2 separate regions of the Homo sapiens genome follow, and region 2 is linked to region 1. The links come from fine-mapping of genetic effects on gene expression. A gene starts in region 1. The other region holds a variant in brackets. All regions are shown on one strand. Distances are from middle to middle.

Region 1 (10,441 bases):
GGCACAGAAGCCCAGCACAGGGCCTCTTATCAGCCCCTCCATCTCTTCCCCAGAACAGGCCCAGCCTGCTTGCCCAGCCTGTCACCATGCCTGGCAGGGATGGCATCACCCAGCCGGCTGTGTGCAACTGCTGAAACCCCGTGGGCCCTGCTTCCAGTGCCGCACCCTCCTCGCCCAGGATGGCTGCAGGATTTACCAGGTCCTCCGCACAGTGAAAATGTGAGCTCCTTGCCCCAAGATGATGAAGAATTTCAAGACGGCAATGGTAGATTGGTAAATTAACCTCAGGTGCCATGTGACAGCACAGGTTGGGTGCTGTGAGCCATGCATGAAGCTCCTGGTGGGTACAGCTCTGCCTCATGGGTCACCCCTCTCTACCGTGACCACGAGGACTGGGCTGGGTATGCAGTGCCCTGCTGTGACCCCTGACACACAGACCCCTAGCCATCCCCTCCACCCCCTCCCTGACCTCCTCTCCCAGGGATGCAACTGGGGGAGCACACCCATCCCCAGAAGAACCCCAAATCTCTGGCTGGCTGTCTCTTACCCAACCCCCATCCCCAGCTCCAGCTGAGGGGCAAGCGTGCTGCTGGGCTGCTCCTGAGGAGAAACCCATGGCGCCACCCTCAGGCCCCCGGTGGCTCCTCAACCTGGGCCCCATCTCTGCCCCCCATCTTGGCTCCTCAGGCATATTTAAACTTTGCCCCTCCCACCCCCGTGCCTGGCGGATCCCCTGGCACTGAGGCCCAGCCAGTGGCTCCAGCCAACGCACTTGGCTCCCGCAGCAAGTTAAATCTAACCCAGCCCAGCTGTCTCTCCTCCGGCTCCCACCTGCCCCTCCCGTTCCCTGCAGGGATGTGCCCACACCCTGCCAACCCTACATGGGCCCTCAGGAAGGGTGCAGAGGTCCCCCAGGGTCCCCCACTTTCCCACACTAGGAAAGCCCTTTGCCTAGCAGCCTCTGGGGTGGGTGCCCTGCTTCTGGAGGTACCCCGGCACCCAGGGTGGGGCCAGCAGAGTGCAGCAGGTTTTCAACAGGTATTTCAAGAAGGAGCAGGAACCCACTTCCCATCAGTCAGGGTGCAGCCAGGAAGAGGGAAACTCCAGGGCCAACGCTGAAGTGGCCGCTGCAGCACCACGCTGGGGCACGGAGTTGGAGTACAGCCCTTGTGCCACAGGCGTGCCAGGGAATGTGTGCCAGGCGCTCTGTCTTGCATCTGGGGCTGTCGGTTCTTCTGAGGCAGGGCACTCATGGGTCGCTTCTGGAGATGTCCACATTTCTGGGTCTGGGACTGTCTAGGCCTGGCTTTGGGGCCATCTGTAATCTGCTCCCCGTAGCCCCATGTTTTGTTTAGGCTGGAAGTGCACTCAGCTAAAATGCCGTTATCCTACCAAAAGTGGCATAGGATGGAGTTCTGGCCAGTGAGATGTGAGCAGAAGTGCTGGGTGTGTCTTCAGGGACAGATCCTCAAAGGGAGCTGACTCATCTAGGGGGCAGCACTTTTGCTCTTCCTCTTTTCCTTCCTCCTTTCTGGTCAGGTATGCTTGTGATGGCTGGAGCATCAGCAGCTGTTTTGGGCCATGAGGTGACACTGAGGCTGGAAGCCAGCACTAGGAGAGTGATACAGTAAGGTAGGAGCTGCGTCCCTGAGGATGCCACTAGGAGAGGATAGTGTAAGATAGGAGCTGTGTCCCTGAGGATGCATGGTACCCTGCCAGCTGGACAGCGCAGGCTTGTGTCACCGAGAGAAAAGTACGTTTCTACTCTGTCGAAGCCTCTGTTACTCTGAGCTTTCTCAGGAACGCAGCTCTAACCAGTTCTAAAGGGCAGGCAGCCATGTTGGCTCAAATGCTTCCCCCAGCAAGGCAGGAAGCCACTCCAGTGTCCTGCAAGAAACTTCATAGAAAAAAGGCTTCCATCCCCATATGTTGGGGGTCTGCATCAGGCCCTTCCTGGGCCCTGGAGCCTCCATGTGCACCTGAGTGGGAAGGGCTCTGGGAAGCCTAAGGCTGGGGAGGGCACCTGTTGACTTTGTTTAAATAGTGTTCTCAAGCCTACTTGACTGAGGAACCCCTTCCTCCAGAAACAAGGAATTACAGCCGGAAAGGCCTCTGGGAAGGCCACCTTCTCTGCCCTTCACTGCGGGGTGGGGCGTGTCCCTGAGCTACTGCACTCAGAGGAGCTGGGCCTGGCCCCGGGCAGGCAGCAAGCACTCCAGGAGAGGCTGTGGCTGCTGCCAGCTCTGTGAGCGGGAAACTGGGGGGCCTTTCTCCCCTCTCCCCAGCCCCTCATTCCAACTGCTCTGGAGCTGTGGCCTGAGCCCCACCCTGGCCCTCTGCTCAGAAGGGCCTGTTCCCAGGCAGGTCTCAGTGCCCAGGAGTGGAGAGGGGGGCTGTGGAGACCAGGGGGATCATCCCAGGAAGAGTGGGTTTGCAAAGCTGCAGCAGCAAGGAAGCTGTGGGGTAAAAAGTTTATAAGAGGAACACTATTTTTTCTTTTGGCAGAATTTAATGGGTGCAGATTGTTCAGGTCCCAAAGACATGGGAAAAAAAAAAAAGAGAGAGAGAAAGAAAAAGCCCTTTGCTGCTGCTATTGATAACTTGTCTCGCTTCACGTGGTGGGTTCAAAACTAAAAATACTCTCCTCCCCACAGCAGAGAAGCCAGGGCTGTCACGTCGCAGAGGAGACTGGAGAGCTGCGGCGGGGAGGGGTCAGCTGCGGCCACGTGAGGGCCAGGCCCCTCTCTGACTGCCCAGGCTGCATCCACACAGAAGATTCCATGGCTTTCCATAAAAGAGAGTGGGAGAATGTCCTCTCTAAAGGCCTGGGGAGTGCCTGGGGAGAGGAGACAGCCTCAGCTGGGGCTCACCAGCCAGCAGCTGCCAGCCAGGCCAGCAATGCCAAGGCACCCGGCGTTCCTGGAAGCCAAGCCCTGTTTGATCTAATGGGGCAGCTGTGGGTGCAGACCCAGATAAAGAGATAAACCCAGACCCAGAAACCTGGGGGAGGAGGTAAGAGTGGAGCGGGGGAAAGGGCGGTGGGTCGTAGGCGGGACTGGTGCTGCCAGGCCCTGGGCAAGCTGCTTCTGCTCTCTAAGCCTCAGTTTCCCCATCCAAAAGGTGGGAGCAACAACCTCTCTTCCGCCTCCTTCACCGTGAGAGGAAAGGAAGCGGGATGACATAGTTGTGGCTGGGACTGCTGGACCCCGCATGCCAGCCCTGGGAGGTATGTGGGTCATGAAATCCACCCACTGGTGACCTCCCCCATGGTGAGGGAGGGAGAGAGCTTCTCCCCTCCTTGGCTAAGAGGACAGAGGGAGGATCCTACAAATTCTGTCAGGAAGCAGAAATTTGGTCTGAGAGCAGTGAAGGTGGGAGCAGACACCCCCCAAATCACCTGCAGGATGAGCATTTCTCAGGCTCTAGAGAGCATGTGTGGGACACAGCCGCCAGCCCACCTGGTGCGGGGGTCCAGCAGCCACAGCCATGGGAACTCCTGGGCCTGTTGTTCGTGTGCGGATCCTGGTCCGGGAGCCTGGATGCGGCTCTGCCTTGCCGACAAGCTCCTGGGCCAGGCCTGGTCCACCAGACCTCCCTATGCTTGGAGTGCCTGCTTGTTGTGCCTGGAGCTGTGCTGGGCCCTTCCTCATTGCAGGGCTGGGGGAGTCACTTAACCTGTCTGGGGCTCAGTCTTCTCATCTGTAAAGTGGGAATGATGGCACCTGGTACCCACTTGATTGGCTGTTGCAAACATGAAACCAGATGGGCCTGTAAATCACAGGGCACTCGGCCGCCATCACCATCATCATCATCAACATCATCATCCTCATCATCATGGCCCCAGCTCATCCATCTTTGTTGCCTTCTCCACCCCCATCTTCCATCCTTGGAGAACTGTGCCTCTTGAATTGGCCTCGTGACCTAGTAAAGATCATAACAAAGACGCCTAAGTTGGTCTCAAGGCACCCTCCTTACTACCCACCAACTGAGGGAGGATTCTCGCCTAGTCCCAGCAACTGGCCCCGGGGAGGAAGTACCCTTCCCAGTCCTGGCACGTCTCCAGCAGTGCTGGCTGACGGCAGACTACCCTTGAAGCTCAGTTACTGCATTTGTGGAGAGGGGTGAAACCCCTGCTCCAGCCCAGGGGCCATCTGAGATCACACCCCCAACCCCAAGGCCAGGGTGGATCTCCCTGCTTGGCCCTGGGGTGGTCCCTGGGCAGATGAGAGGGTCCTTCTGCCTGAGCCTCTGAGGCTGCCCTCACTGCAGAGCTCGTGGTCAAGGGGTGGGTGGGCAGGTTGGATCCCCTCAAGGGCACAGGGGTTAGAGTCTTAGAGACTTAGGGTGAGGGACATGGAGAGTGATGGGTTTCTGGGACCCTGAGCTGGCCCTGGCAAGGCCCACAGGGAAAGCTGTGGAGCGCAGTCATCTCCGTGGCAACTGGCCTCATCGTCCTTGTCCTGGCTTGGGGGCCGCACGCCTTCCCTTCCCTTTCACCGGCTGGAGTCGCTTTCTTCAGAGGTAACCATGGCAACCCCTTTGTTTCTGAGGCCTGCCCGCCCTCCTCCCCGTTCTCTCTTCAGGAGAGGCTCAGCCAGCTCCTTCCTGGTCCCGGCACGTCTCTAGTGGCGCCGACTGACAGTGGCCCACCAGTGAGTGGGGCCAGCCCCTGGGGTGGGGGAGAACGGCCCTGCTGGGCCCAGAGATGTGGCCTGGGCCCCACCCCTGCCACAGAGGCCACGTTCATTGGCTCACTCATGCCCTGAAATTTATAGAGAGTACCCACGTCTGCCACGGGGCCACAGATGGGGCAAAGGCCTGTCCCTGCCTCCATGGCCCTGCTAGGGGCAGCCTGGAAGTGGGGAGACAAGGCCTGAGGAGGGGGTGCAGAGGCCCAACGGGGGCTGGCTTTGCTGCAGGACGCACTGCGGGGTCACGGGTCATCTGCCAGAGCTCTCAAGGCCACAGGAAGCCCAGGACTCTTGGCTTTACCTCAAATGGGCTGAAGCAGAAACAAGCATGTGGTTCACGTAACTGAAAAGTCAAGGAAAGGACCTGCTGAGGTGCAGCAGGGTCCACGTGACCCGGCCGTGGTTGCTCCGGCTTTCCTCTGGGCTGGCTTCATTCTCGTGCAGCCCTGTTCTCGGGTAGTGAGATGTGGAAGACTGGCCCCTTCCCTCTCTCACCTAACCCAGCTCTGGAGAGGTCTGTGGGCAGATGGGAGAGTCATTTGACTTCAGCCTCCCCTCCGGTCTGAACTCTGACCCTACAGCAAAAGTCCCAGGACTGAGCCTCTTTGGCTAGAACTGGGTCACAGGCTGACCCCTAAACCAACTGCTGTGACTATGTAGCCAGCCTGGTTTATGCCACTCCACTCACCTCAAACCAGACCCATGACTTCAATGAGATGTTGACAGGGGAACCCTGGTTTGCAGATGAAACTGAGTGATCACAGACTCAGAGAGGTTAATTAATTTGTCCAAATCCACACAGCTGGTAAAGAATGCAAGCTCCAGGTCTGATTCCAGAACTTCTGGGCTTAACCCTGGAGCCACTGTAGGTCAGTGGGAGTCCAAAGGGTTTTAAGTATGGTGGTGAAACGGTCGGGGATGCAGCTGGAGGGGTAAATTGGCGCTGGATTTTGGTTGGCGGTGAATGGCATGCAAAGGAGGTGGACGATATTCAGGATTTGGTAGGACAGTGGAAGCAGCTACGCCCCAGCTATCGCACGGTCCCCAGCATTTGTAGGAAAAAGCCCCCAGGGCTTTGGGTAGCCTCGCAGGCCCGCACTGCCGCCAGGACGCAGTGCACCTGAGGGCGGAGCACCCACGCCCCGGGCCACCTGACTCACTGTTTGTCAACTCTGCTCTCTGCAGCCACGCCCTTTCCTCCTTGCCTCCCTCCCCTTTTGGCTCAGGGGCGGCATAACCCCGCCTCTCTCCTGCTGTGACTGGCTGTCCTTGCCGTCACTCCGCTGCGTGGGCGGGGCTCTGAGGGGGCACAGGTAGAGGCCCTTCGCGAAGGGATTAGCATAGTCCCACCCCCCGGCGCGAGCCTCGGGCCGGGCGCTGATTGGGCAGGCAGCGGCCGACGCGGCGGCGCCGGGCGCAGCGAGTGGCGGGCGCGGGCTGTCAGTCGGCGAGGCGGCGGGCCGCACTTCCGCCTCGGTGTCAGTGGGTCGCGGGCCTACGGGGCGGGGGCGGGGCGGCAGTGAGCTCGGCCGGCAACCGAGGGACCCGCGTCCAGGTGAGTGGCCCCCGCCGCCGCCACGCGAAGGCCCGGGACCCCGGCGAGCTGCGGGGCCTGGGCCGCGGGCTGGGGCTGGAGCCGGGGCGGGGAGGGGAGGGCGGGCCGGGCAGGACCCGGGTCCGCAGGCCGCCTCCAGCCCCGGCCCCGGCCCCGGCCTCGACCCCCACTGGGAGGCGCGCCCGGCCTAGGCCGCAGCCTGGCGCCCCGGGGAAACTTTGGGAGGAAAGTTCCGGCCGGGCGTGGGGCCTGGGCCTGGGTCCCGCGGCCCCCGCACCCTTCCCCCTGCGGTCGCCCGGCAACTGCGATCCCGGGACCCCCGGCCCGGCCCCCCCGAGATCCCCAGCCCCCCTGCTGCCCCGCTGAGCAGGAAGTGGGGACGGGCGCACCTGCTCGCGGCCTCGCCCTCTCTCACCACCTCACCGGGAACAGGGAAGGATTTCGTGCGCATTTAGGGCGATCCTGTAGGTGAGGAGGGCGAGTTCCGCCGGGAAGAAGGGCAGGGAGACGCAGTCCCACTCCGACCCTGGCCTTCTTGTCCCGCAGGCCTGTGTGCACGTCGTCCCGGGGAGGGTGCCCGCGAGCCCTTGTCCGTTCCCCTGGGCTCTGTTTTTGTTTTTAATTTATAAATCTTAGCAGACTACACACGGTTGAGAACTTGCTACCTAAAACCTATCTTTGGTAATGTAATTTTAAGAGGTTCCTTCTTTCGCCAGTTATATTTTGGTACTCAGAAGAATACGTCTTTAGACTTTCCAAGTTTATAAGCCCAGACCAAGACTGTTAGGTCGTCACAGCACCTCAGCCTCCCCGCTTCATGGGAGGACCGGCGACGAGGCAGTGGGTGTCGGGGTGTTGCAGGCTCTCCTGGGGTGAGGGTCACCTCCCAGGGGCGTTTCTATCTGAACCGTCCTCTAGGACAGGCCCTGGCCTAGCCTGGCTCCGGCAGCTTTGGGATGACTGCCCGGAACACCTGGAGAAGGGGTCCCATTCGGTTTGGTTGGATAGACGTTTCTCGAATGCCTGCTGTGGGCCTGGCTGGGTGCTGTGCGGCCTTCCCACCAGCTGGATGTGTGGTGAGGACAGCGGAGAGTTGAGGAGCCCGGAACTGGTGCAGGGGCCACATGCTGGGAAGCCACGGCCGTCCCTGCTGCCCTTCCTAACTCGTGCCCATGGCCTCTTTTCTGGCTGTCAGCCTCAACTCCTTCATCCGGACATGTAGCACTTTGCTGATAAGAGAAGCAAACGAGATCATTTTCTTGTTTTATGTTTTGAGATGGAGTCTCGCTTTGTTGCCCAGGCTGGAGTGCAGTGGTGCGATCTTGACTCACTGCCACCTCCGTCTCCCGGCTTCAAGCCATTCTCCTGCCTTAGCCTCCCATCTAGCTGGGACCACAGGCGCCGGCCACCACGCCCGCCTAATTTTTTTATTTTTAGTAGAGATGGGGTTTTACCATGTTGGCCAGGCTGGTCTCGAACTCCTAACCTCAAGGGATCCGCCTGCCTCAGCCTCCCAAAGTGCTAGGATTCCAGGTGCGAGCCACCGCGCCCTGCCATGAAATCATTTTCTACCACAGTCTCTGACACCTAGTGCGCACCCCGGAATGCCAGTTACCTTCCCCTTGTTGAGGACAGGAACTTTGTCGGTGGCACTTCCTCCCTGCCCAGCCCAGTGCCTGCCACAGTGTCGTCTTTTAGAATGTGGCAATGAGTGAGTGAGTGACTGAGTCTCCCTCATAGAATTTACCCTGTTTTCTTCATGTGTCCATCTATTAATGACAGCTCTTACCCCAGCAGACGATAATATTTAATAATGATTGTTCCAGGACTGTTACGAGCATGTCGTATTCACTTTCTTTGTGTGATCTTCACAACAGTCCACTGGGCAGGTACTGACATTATCCTTAGTTCATTCATGAGGAAGCTAAGGAACAGAGAGGTTAAGTAACTTACCTAAACCACACAGCAGTAAATTATGAAATATGGATTTGAACCCAGGCTCCAGGGTTCACACTCTTAAACACTACCCTGTACTGCCTTTTAATATCAAGATTTTCATTTAACATTTTCGTTTAGAATATTCTAATCATGCTGCATTACTCTGTGTCAGAATTTCGGGATTTTGCTACATATAGAACTAATAGACTTTCTTTTTTGTGAGCCTGAGTGTTTACAAAGCCATTTCATTTTTTCTGAAATAAAGTAATTTACCGTTTGACCATTCAGGATTTTGCCAGAATACCTTCCCTGCCACCCAGCTCCTTTGTTACTGGCAGATTCAGTGGTGGTCTCTGTGTGAAGAGGGAGGACTGAGGGGCATGGGTGCTGACAGGCGTACAGTCCAGACTCTGAGGTCTCCGTTCTGAGTTCAGTTCCAGGGGACTTCACACACTGCCTTAGAGTACACACGTAGGACATTTTTCTTCCACGCCTCGAGTGCGTTGAGAGGGTCAGACTCTGCTGTGTTCCACATGTTAATGAGAGGTGCTGTTTGAATGTGAAAAAAATGCCACTTGACTTTCATCCCAGTGTCTCTCCTCTGTGCCGTCCAGGAGATGCCAGCAGATGGGTCTTGGAATTTTTTTTTTTTTGAGATGGAGTCTCGCTCTGTCGCCCAGGCTGGAGTGCAGTGGCGCGAACTCGGCTCACTGCAAACGCGAACTCAGCTCACTGCAAGCTCTGCCTCCCGGGTTCACACCATTCTCCTGCCTCAGCCTCCCAAGTAGCTGGGACTACAGGCGCCCGCCACCACACCTGGCTAATTTTGGGTCTTGGATTTGTCATTAAAGCTTGCTCGACTTTTAAAGTTTTAGTACATTCAGCCAATTACAAAAGTGACATTTTGTATAAGGGAATTGTTGACACATTTTAGGTTCTTATGCTGTCTTCAAGCAGGGAAGCTGCCATCTCCTCAAGGTGATTTCTTTAATGTCCCCATGCAAGCCATGTCTTGTCTGGCCGTGCAGGCACAGCTGGCGCCGTGCCTTCCTGAGTCACAGCATCTTTGCGAAGGTGGTGCGCCAGACCAGGGCTCTTGGGTCCTGGGTGGGTTCCCACTGGCTCCTGCCTTCAGTGTCTTTGCCTGTAAGACGGATTACTATGTGGAATCTGTGAAAATATAACATCAAGTGTCTGATACGTTGTGGGTGCCTGGGCCGCCCTTGGCTCCAACACCTGCTGAAGCTGGAGCCTCTCAGCAGTGCAGCAGTCACACCCTCAGGTGTCCCGGGATCTTTGGGTGTGGGCTGATTTTCTCCTAGTCATTGTCATACTTCCTGTTTGGGTGTTGACATTTCGTTTAGTGTTTAGCACAGATTGTCAGGTACGAGGTTTAATTCCAATATGTAGTACATTTTCAGGTTGATTTATAACCTTATCTACACTGAAAGGAAGTCAGTATTTGAACATGACTGATTATTAAAAAGGACCGAAGTCCTGAGTTAATATGGTGGGTTCTGGTTTGATAGTTTAAATGCACTTTCCACATATGCTAGTTGATTTGTAAATCTGCTGTCATTTTTGCTTTTTCAGAGTGTTCTTGCTAGTGAGTTTCAGGCATGGTGTCCCGGCCTCTCAGGCTGCTGGTTTGGGCTAGGGTCCCACTGTGGAAGCGTGGTGGTGTCCCGGCCCACCTCTGCAGCTCTTGATAATAAAAGCATCTGTTAAATAGCTCACAGCACTGTTTGCGTGAACTTTTTGGCACTTCTTTCCTTTTCCTTCCAGATTCAGAAAAGAACTTGGGATCATTCAGCAGAATGTCACAGCATCCACATTCTTTCCGCTGGAGCTTCTGCTGATGCAAATCCTGTGACCTCTGAGTTGAGCTGAGTGGTGGAAGTGAGCTTTTATAAGGGACTGGATCTGAGACTCGTGCCTGATGTTTGTGGCTGTTTCTCTTTGCTTGCCTTCTGTTTTCAGTGGAACACTCGCTTGATGTATTTTGAGAAACAAACTCTGGGATCAGTCCTGTTGAGCTAGTGGCTGGCTCCATAGTTTGGGGCCTGAAGAGGTTCCCGCACCCTCAGGGCTTGTGGCGGTCATCAGGCCTCTCTCCTGGGTGTAAGGTGTGTACTTCTCACCTGCGCACTGAGGGCCTGGGGGCTGTGGCCCCGACGCTGAGGCAAGTCAGGGGTGGGAAGGGTCTGAGGGGCTCTTGGCTGAGCAGACACTGAGCACATTTCTTTATCAAAGGCGC
Region 2 (8,000 bases), 38 kb after region 1:
CCTCTGCTTTGCCCACCCCAGACCCTGCTCCTTCCTGAAGAGCCTGCCCTGAGGTGACAGCTGTGTTTCCCTGGAATGCCTACTGCCCTTGGGATCCCTTTCCTGGAAGCCCGGTGGGAAGAGTGGCCCCTGTGGGCACTCGTCCCCTTGGCACCTTCCCAGCTTCCCCCACTAAGCCATGCGCCCTGCCGTCCAGGGCCTGGGAGCAGACACCTGAGACTCCTTTGCCAACTCGGAAGGCCTTAGGGGAAAGCCACATGGAGCCATGTTATGGGAGGCCTCATTTGCCAGGTTCAGGTGTGTCCGAGGCATCCTGGAGGGACGGGAAGCCAGGGACTATTTTTAACGGCGTGGGTGGCTCTGCCTGGGACCACTACTCTGTTTTTTTGTTTTTGAGACGGAGTCTGGCTCTGTCTCCCAGGCTGGAGGGCAATAGCATAATATCGGCTCACCGCAACCTTCACCTCCTGGGTTCAAGCGATTCTCCTGCCTCAGCCTCCCGAGTAGCTGGGATTACAGGTGTGCGCCACCATGCACAGCTAATTTTTGAATTTTTAGTATAGACAGGGTTTCGCTGTGTTGGCCAGACTGGTCTTGAACTCCTGACCTCAAGGGATCCACCCGCCTCGGCCTCCCAGGGTGCTTGGATTTTAGGTGTGAGCCACCGTGCCCAGCCTGGGACCACTACTCTGGAAGTGGGGTGGAGAAGATGTGGAGTAGGGGAGGGGGCGCAGGTGGGCCCAAGAGCCCTTGTGGCAGTCTCTGTGTCTGGAATGGGGCGGTGGGCTGGGGAGGCAGAGAGGATTCAGGGGTGTCATGCCAGAGACCTCTGCAGGCTCAGCACAGATTGTGTGTCAGGTCTGATGGCAGCTGAGGCTCACAGGGCAGGGCCGATGGGGCAGGGAGTGGCTCACCCATGGGGGGTTTGAAGATCCGGTTCAACCCCAGAGGCTGCGGCTCCATGAAGGGATGCTCAGAGCAGGGGCATCGGGCAGCCCAGCGGTGTCAGGAAGGCAGCAGTAACCAGCGAGTCTTCCCCATCTTTCCAGGAGCTGTCCAAGATCACGATGCCAATCGCCTTCAACGAGCCTCTGAGCTTCTTGCAGCGGATCACGGAGTACATGGAGCACGTGTACCTCATCCACAGGGCCTCCTGCCAGCCCCAGCCCCTGGAGAGGATGCAGGTGGGCCTTAGGGGTGCCAGGCAGGAGTTTGTCATGAAAGTGATGCCCCTTGCATGTCTGGCCACACAGTCTTGGGGCCCCAGGCATCTGTGAGGACTCGCACAGCTCCCCCCAGTGTTCAGTGCCATCCTGCCTGGCGGTCGTGGCATTTGTCCTGTCACCACAGGTGTGTGATGACAGAACTTGCCGGAAATGCCATTGAGCTCTCAGTGGCCCCAAGAGCTCCCTGCTGCCGCCTCCTGCCGGGAGACTCCGCCTCTTGGAGCTGAAGGTGGCGGTGGGCTCTGCCCTTGGGCTTCTCTTGGGTCCTGTTGCACCACCGCACCCCATGTGTGTGCATGTGTGTGACTGTGGGCTGGGCACGCACGGTGGCTCATGCCTGTAATCCCAACACTTCGGGAGGCTGAGGTGGATGAATTGCTCCTGGAGGTTGAGACCAGCTGAGGCAACACAGTGAGACCGCATCTCTACAAAAATTTTTTAAAACTTAGCCAGGTGCAGTGTTGCATGCCTGCAATGCCAGCTACTTGGGAGGCTGATGAGAGAGGATCGCTTGTGCCCAGGAGCTAGAGGCTACAGTGAGCCACGATTACGCCACTGCACTCCAGCCTGGGTGACAGAGTGAGACCCTGTGTCTAAAAAATAACAAAATACAAGTGTGTGACTGTGGGTGCACATAACGTGTGCACGTGTGTGCGCATGCCTCTGTGAATGAGTGCTTGGGGTGTGTGTGTTGAGTGTGTGGCCTTGTGTGTGCATATCAGACGGAGTGGCTGACATTGCTGCAGCATCTGCCAGAAGGGCCTGGCTCCGGGGGTGGAAGGCAGCACCCAGTTCCTTCTTTCTGTGCTGTCGGGGGAGTGGCGGGTGATGAAGGGCATTCCCTGGAAGTCCTATAATCTCAGACACACTGCTCGGGGAAAACTGAAAACGCACACGGAACAAATAGTGACAGAAACCAGGTGCCCACCGCCCTCCACAAGAGGCCATCTTCTCCAGCGCGTTTCCTAACTGAAGCTGTGCCTGTCCCCCCCGTGGATTATTTACAGTCTGTGGCTGCTTTTGCTGTTTCGGCTGTGGCTTCCCAGTGGGAGAGGACCGGCAAACCATTTAATCCACTCTTGGGAGAAACGTATGAATTAATCAGGTAAGGGGGGAAAGGCCCATCATAAATATCTTGTAAATGGAATTCCTTGGATGACAGATAAGTTTGATTCTTTCACTAGCATTGATTCCTCTGCTCTGAGAATAAACTGTTTGAATTAAGAGCTCACGAAAGCGTTTGGATGCTGTAGGCGAGATGTTTCACACACACGGGGTGTTGTGCTAGCGTGCCACGGCGTCTGAGTGAGTGTAAAGCGCTGGCAATGAGATATTTTAGTGTGTTCGACTCAAGCGTGGAGATAGCGCGCACTGTAGACGCTTCCGTGTGTGTGTGCGACGTCTGTGAAATGTGTAGGATTGTTGTGAGCTTCACCGAAAATGGAAATAGGTACTAATGAGCAAAACTAGGCTGTTTCACTAAAGCATTTAGTGAACGCTATTGAAAAAGCAGGTAAATCCAAACACAGGAATGATTGCAAAGAGGAGCTTCACTCCCAAGGCCACGTTTGCCACCACAGCCTCCCCAGAGTTTTAGGAAGGGTCAGACGGCTCTGGCCAAGGGAGAGTTAACCAGACCACGCCTCATCTCCAGACATCCCTGAAACTTCTTCCTATGGAACTTTCTTCTAGGCAGCGTTGCCATCCCTTCCTAGAGTCTCCCCAGCTTCCCTCCTGTCTCTGGTGGCCCTCACCTCACAGACGTGAGACTGACTCCAAGTCCTAGAACTCTGACCCCAGAGGTCCAGCCGGGCCCCAGATCCGTTGTTTGTGGCTGGGCCTCTGGAAGGACTGGTTGGGGTTCTCTTCACCCACCTGGTTGCCCTGGGGACTGCTGTGGTTATTCACAGAATCATCCTGGGATTCTGCCCAGGTGACAGTGCCCACCCACACCAACAAATGAAGTCAAAAGCAGGCCAGACCATGGCATGTATGTGGCAGTGTGGTAATTCCTCAGCCATTGAGCAGCCTGGCTGGGGCTCCGGGGAGCTGTGGATGAGAGGGATGTGGGTGGCTTCCTTCAGGGCCGTTTGGTGATGTCTAAAATGATTTTTATTCCACTGCCCGTGGACCCCGTCATTCTCTTGTAGATGCATGCAGGTGCCCATGGGCAGATGTGTAGGGAGAGTCAGCAGAGCACAGTTCAGCTGCTGTCTCTGTGACAGGGCTAAGCTGTGGTTCTGAAGGAGGGAGGGGCAGGGCACTCTCGCTGCACCCTTCAGTCTTCCGACTGTCGAGGTAGCCCAGCACACAGAGCTCACTCTGGGAAGAAGGAGCTTGCTGGTGGGACACCCTTCACTCTTCTGACTGTCAGTGGAGCCCAGCACACAGAGCTCGCTCCGCCTGCCTGGGGAGAAGGAGCTGGAGGGGCGTGGGTGGTTATCTAGACAAGTCTGCTGTGCAGAATGCAAGCTGTTTGCCACAGGCTGCTGGGCTGCACGCCTCCCTGCCCAGGAACAGAGTGCAGACGGGAGGGAAGGCGGGCTCCTTTATCATCTTGTTTTATTATTTTTCTGTGAAAAAGGGAGTTGAGCCAAAACAATTAGCCTCTTATTTGGATTCTGGGTTAGTTGAGATTCTGTTGGGTTATTTTATTATGAAGTCTGTTTGTTTTTTTAATTACGAGAGAGTGCTCTTTATAGAAAATGTGTAACATTGAGAAAGGTAGAAAAGATGAATCAGGCATAATCCCATACAAGACAATAGCTGGCTGGGCTCACGCCTGGAATACCTGCAACTCAGGAGGCGAGGCAGGAGCATCACTTGAGCCCAGGAGTTCAGTTACAGTGACCGTGCCACTGAACTCTAACCTGGACTACAGAGCCAGACCGTGTCTCTTTAAAAAAAATGAGAGGAACTGTCAGCATTTTGTTAGACTTTCTTTTGTGTGTGTTTCAAAATATGATAATTTAATTTGTATCCCTTTTTAACATGTCATAATTTTCCTGTGACATTAAAAACTTTTTCTAAATTAGAGTGTTTCATCGATTCTAAGACGCCTTGTTCACGTGGCAGCACTTCTACATGTCAGTTTCTTGTTCCTTTTTTTTTTTTTGAGACGAGGTCTCACTCTGTCGCCCAGGCTGAAGTTCAGTGACATGATCACGGCTCACTGTAGCCTCGACCTCCTGCCTTAACCTCCTGGATATGATCACAGCTCACTGTAGCCTCGACCTCCTGGGCTCAAGTTATCTTCCCACCTCAGCCTCCCAAGTAGCTGGAACTACAGGCGTGCGCCACCATGCCCAGCTAATTTTTGTATTTTCAGTAGAGACAGGGTTTTGCTGTGTTGCCCAGGCTGCTCTTGAACTCCTGAGCTCAAGTGATCTGCCTCCCTCAGCCTCCCAAAGTGCTAGGATTACAGGTGTGAGCCTCTGTGCCCAGTCCAAGTCATAGTTTCATTTGCAGCATTTTTTTCTTTCTTTCATAAAATAATGGTGTGCAGTGCAATGAATGGCATCTTGGGTTCCAAGAAGTGCAGTTCCTTTGAAACTTAAGGCCGCTGTTTTGGGGCCCTTTATTGTATTTTATGTGTTATTAATGATTGAGA[A/AT]TTTTTTTTTTTTTTTGAGACGGAATCTCCATTGGTTGCCCAGGCTGGAGGGCAGTGGCATGATCTCCACTCGCTGCAACCTCCGCCTGCTGGTTCAAGCAATTCTCCTGATTCTCCGCCTCAGCTTCCTGAGTAGTTGGGATTACAGGTGCACGCCACCAGGCCCGGCTAATTTTCGTGTTTTCAGTAGAGACAGGGTTTCACCTTGTTGGCCAGGCTGGTGTCGAACTCCCAACCTCAGGTGATCTGCCCACCTTGGCCTCCCAAAGTGCTGGGATTACAGGCGTGAGCCACCACGCCTGGCCATGATTGAGATTTTTATCAATAGTGAGCAAATGGTTGTGGGATTTGGTTTGCTTCAGATGGACTCTTTTCCAGTGTGTAAAGAGTTTAAAAGTGCGTGCCCATGTTTGTCCTAGAAGGTGTGTCAGCACTGCCTGTCAGACCATTTTGGGAGGATGCGTTGTTAGTAGTACAAGCTTTCCTGCACTTCTGTATATAAATCACTATGCAGTTTGGAGAAGCAACATAAATGTCACAGCTTCAAATTCTAATCTGTTCCTGGCTCATCCTGGCTGGGTCAGCTGCTGGTCCTTACCCACATGCTGCCCGTGCGTGAATGCCAACTTTGTGTTTTTTGTCTGATTTAGAAGTTGGCTGGCACTGGGCAGCCGAGCACCTGTTCTCAAGATGTCATTGCCTTTGAGCAAGTAGGACTAGTTTGGACAGAGTGTGGCGTGGTGACAGCAGGGTCCAGCAGGCAACTGTCGGTCTTGGCACAAGCTGCAGGGAGCAGCCCTGCTTCTGCTTCTGGGAAAGGGGAGGCTGAGGCCTGGACAAGGGAAAGACTGGCCACGAGAACCACTTGTGAGGGAGTCTTCTGTTCTGAATTCATGTAGAGTGTGCTTCCTTTTCTAGATATTTCTCTTGAGCAGTATTCCTGTTGCTGCCTGCCAGCCTTCTCGTCCTCTGGTCAGCGTGCTGTGCCACTGTCAGAGGCATTGACGGGATTGGCTCTTAAAAAATTATTAAAATGTCTTGAAAAAGATAAATCAGGCCGGGCGTGGTGGCTCACGCCTGTAATCCCAGCACTTTGAGAGGTTGAGGTAGGCAGATTGCCTGAGGTCAGGAGTTCGAGACTAGCCTGGCCGACATGGTGAAACCTCGTTTCTGCTAAAAAATACAAAAAATTAGCCGGGCGTGGTGGCGGGTGCCTGTAATCCCAGCTACTCGGGAGGCTGAGGCTGGAGAATCACTTGAACCTGGAGGCGGAGGTTGCAGTGAGCCGAGATCACGCCACTGCACTCCAGCCTGGGCGACAGAGATTTTGAGATTCCATCTCAAAAAAAGAAAAAGAAAAAGATAAATCAGAAGAGGAAAGAAGTTCTAGATGATAGAGAAGAAGCCTTGTGGGTGAAAGGAATGCAAGCCGCCTGGGCTGGGTAGAGCGGGGCGTGCCGCCAGCACCCTTCCCCAGGGGCTGCACCCGGGGCCGGAGCTCCTGCTGCACAGCCAGAAGCAAGCTATGCACCTTCGCAACGCCGAGACACGTCGTCTGTCATGAGTTCACTTCCAGATCGTCCTTGCCAGTGTCTGCCATGTGCTGTGTGTCTGTGAGACCCTGGCAGTCTGTCAGGTTAGGGGCCATGGACGTGGACCAAGTCCTTTCCTGATACCCTGGATCCCTACAGATCCCTTGTTATAGCTAAAAATACACATTCTTTTCTCAGACAAGTATTCATTTTGTAAATTACATACCTTGGTAGTCAACCTTTTAAAATCTAATTTTTCAACTTTCTTTCTTCTGTAATGATTGGAAATTCTGATTCCAGTTAAGTTGGTAATTATGTGGTTTAGCTTTTCTAATTTTTAATGACTACAACTGTAGGTGTATTCACAGTTCCGGAACAATTAAAAGCTGACATTTTGATTGAAAAAGAGAGTACACTAAAAATCCTGTTCCTGGACAGGAGTATTTTGGGGTATAAGCCATTCCATCTCGGAAATTTCAGGGGCCTTGTAGAAAGACAAGGAAGGGGCACCCCCTTCAGAAAGGGTTTAGGGTCCTGAGTTCCTGGGCAATGGGAGTCCCTCGGGGTTGAGGGTTTGGAGTCAGAGGTGTGTAAGGATTGCTTCTCCACCTGCGTCTCTGGGTACCTCTAGCCAGACACTGCTGTGGCTCAGGTGGAGAGCAAGCGGGGCATCAGGGTGGAGGCCTCTCCTGCACCATTGCGCTCTCTGGGTGGGTCAGATGTGCTCTGGAAGCCATGTGTGTGTGTGTCTGTTGCCAGCGTTAGGCCAAGTGCGATGTCATGTTTGTGTGTGTGTCTGTTGCCAACGTTAGGCCGAGTGCGATGTCATGTTTGTGTGTGTGTCTGTTGCCAGCGTTAGGCCAAGTGCGATGTCGTGTTTGTGTGTGTGTCTGTTGCCAACATTAGGCCAAGTGCGATGTCGTGTTTGTGTGTATGTCTGTTGCCAACATTAGGCCAAGTGCGATGTCATGTTTGTGTGTGTGTTGCCAACGTTAGGCCAAGTGTGATGTCATGTTTGTGTGTGTGTCTGTTGCCAACATTAGGCCAAGTGCGATGTCATGTTTATGTGTGTGTTGCCAACGTTAGGCCGAGTGCGATGTCATGTTTGTGTGTGTGTCTGTTGCCAACGTTAGGCCGAGTGCGATGTCATGTTTGTGTGTGTGTCTGTTGCCAATGTTAGGCCAAGTGCGATGTCATGTTTGTGTGTGTGTTGCCAACGTTAGGCCAAGTGCAATGTCATGTTTGTGTGTGTGTGTCTGTTGCCAACATTAGGCCAAGTGCGATGTCATGTTTGTGTGTGTGTTGCCAACGTTAGGCCGAGTGCGATGTCATGTTTGTGTGTGTGTTGCCAACGTTAGGCCGAGTGCGATATCGTGTTTGTGTGTGTGTCTGTTGCCGTTAGGCCGAGTGCGATGTCATGTTTGTGTGTGTGTTTGTTGCCAACGTTAGGCCAAGTGCAATGTCATGTTTGTGTGTGTGTGTCTGTTGCCAACGTTAGGCCAAGTGCGATGTCATGTTTGTGTGTGTGTCTGTTGCCAACGTTAGGCCAAGTGCAATGTCGGAGAGGTGGTGTTGGGTGTTTCCGCCACATGTTGTGGCATGGAGGGCCCCTGCTTCCCAGCGTCCTGTGAG

Direction of the effects. Positions count from the first base shown, and alleles are read on the strand shown. Sizes are in standard deviations (SD) of each study's normalised expression.
In carriers of allele AT in region 2, the expression in monocytes of the gene that starts at base 6,170 in region 1 tends to be higher than with A alone (small effect, 0.40 SD a copy in Fairfax 2014).

What was found. PIP is the estimated chance that this variant, and not a neighbour inherited with it, causes the effect.
Region 2: its variant is the best candidate, but not a certain one, in a credible set for the expression of OSBPL2 in monocytes (Fairfax 2014, PIP 0.83).

Annotation. Positions count from the first base shown.
Region 1 is chr20:62,232,352-62,242,792 of GRCh38, forward strand. OSBPL2 (oxysterol binding protein like 2) reads left to right here and starts at 6,170. Exons shown (of 14, transcript NM_144498.4): 1 at 6,170-6,246. LOC105369209 (a long non-coding RNA gene) reads left to right here. Exons shown (of 4, transcript NR_160555.1): 2 at 54-1,632; 3 at 2,655-3,012; 4 at 3,121-3,950. RefSeq lists a silencer at 5,898-6,297 and an enhancer at 6,995-7,919.
Region 2 is chr20:62,271,076-62,279,075 of GRCh38, forward strand. OSBPL2 (oxysterol binding protein like 2) reads left to right here. Exons shown (of 14, transcript NM_144498.4): 5 at 1,050-1,184; 6 at 2,234-2,331. Among named protein-coding and RNA genes, the nearest start is that of ADRM1, 28 kb to the right of the region's middle. RefSeq lists an enhancer at 7,858-8,000. The variant A/AT (reference allele first, on the strand shown) is at 4,837.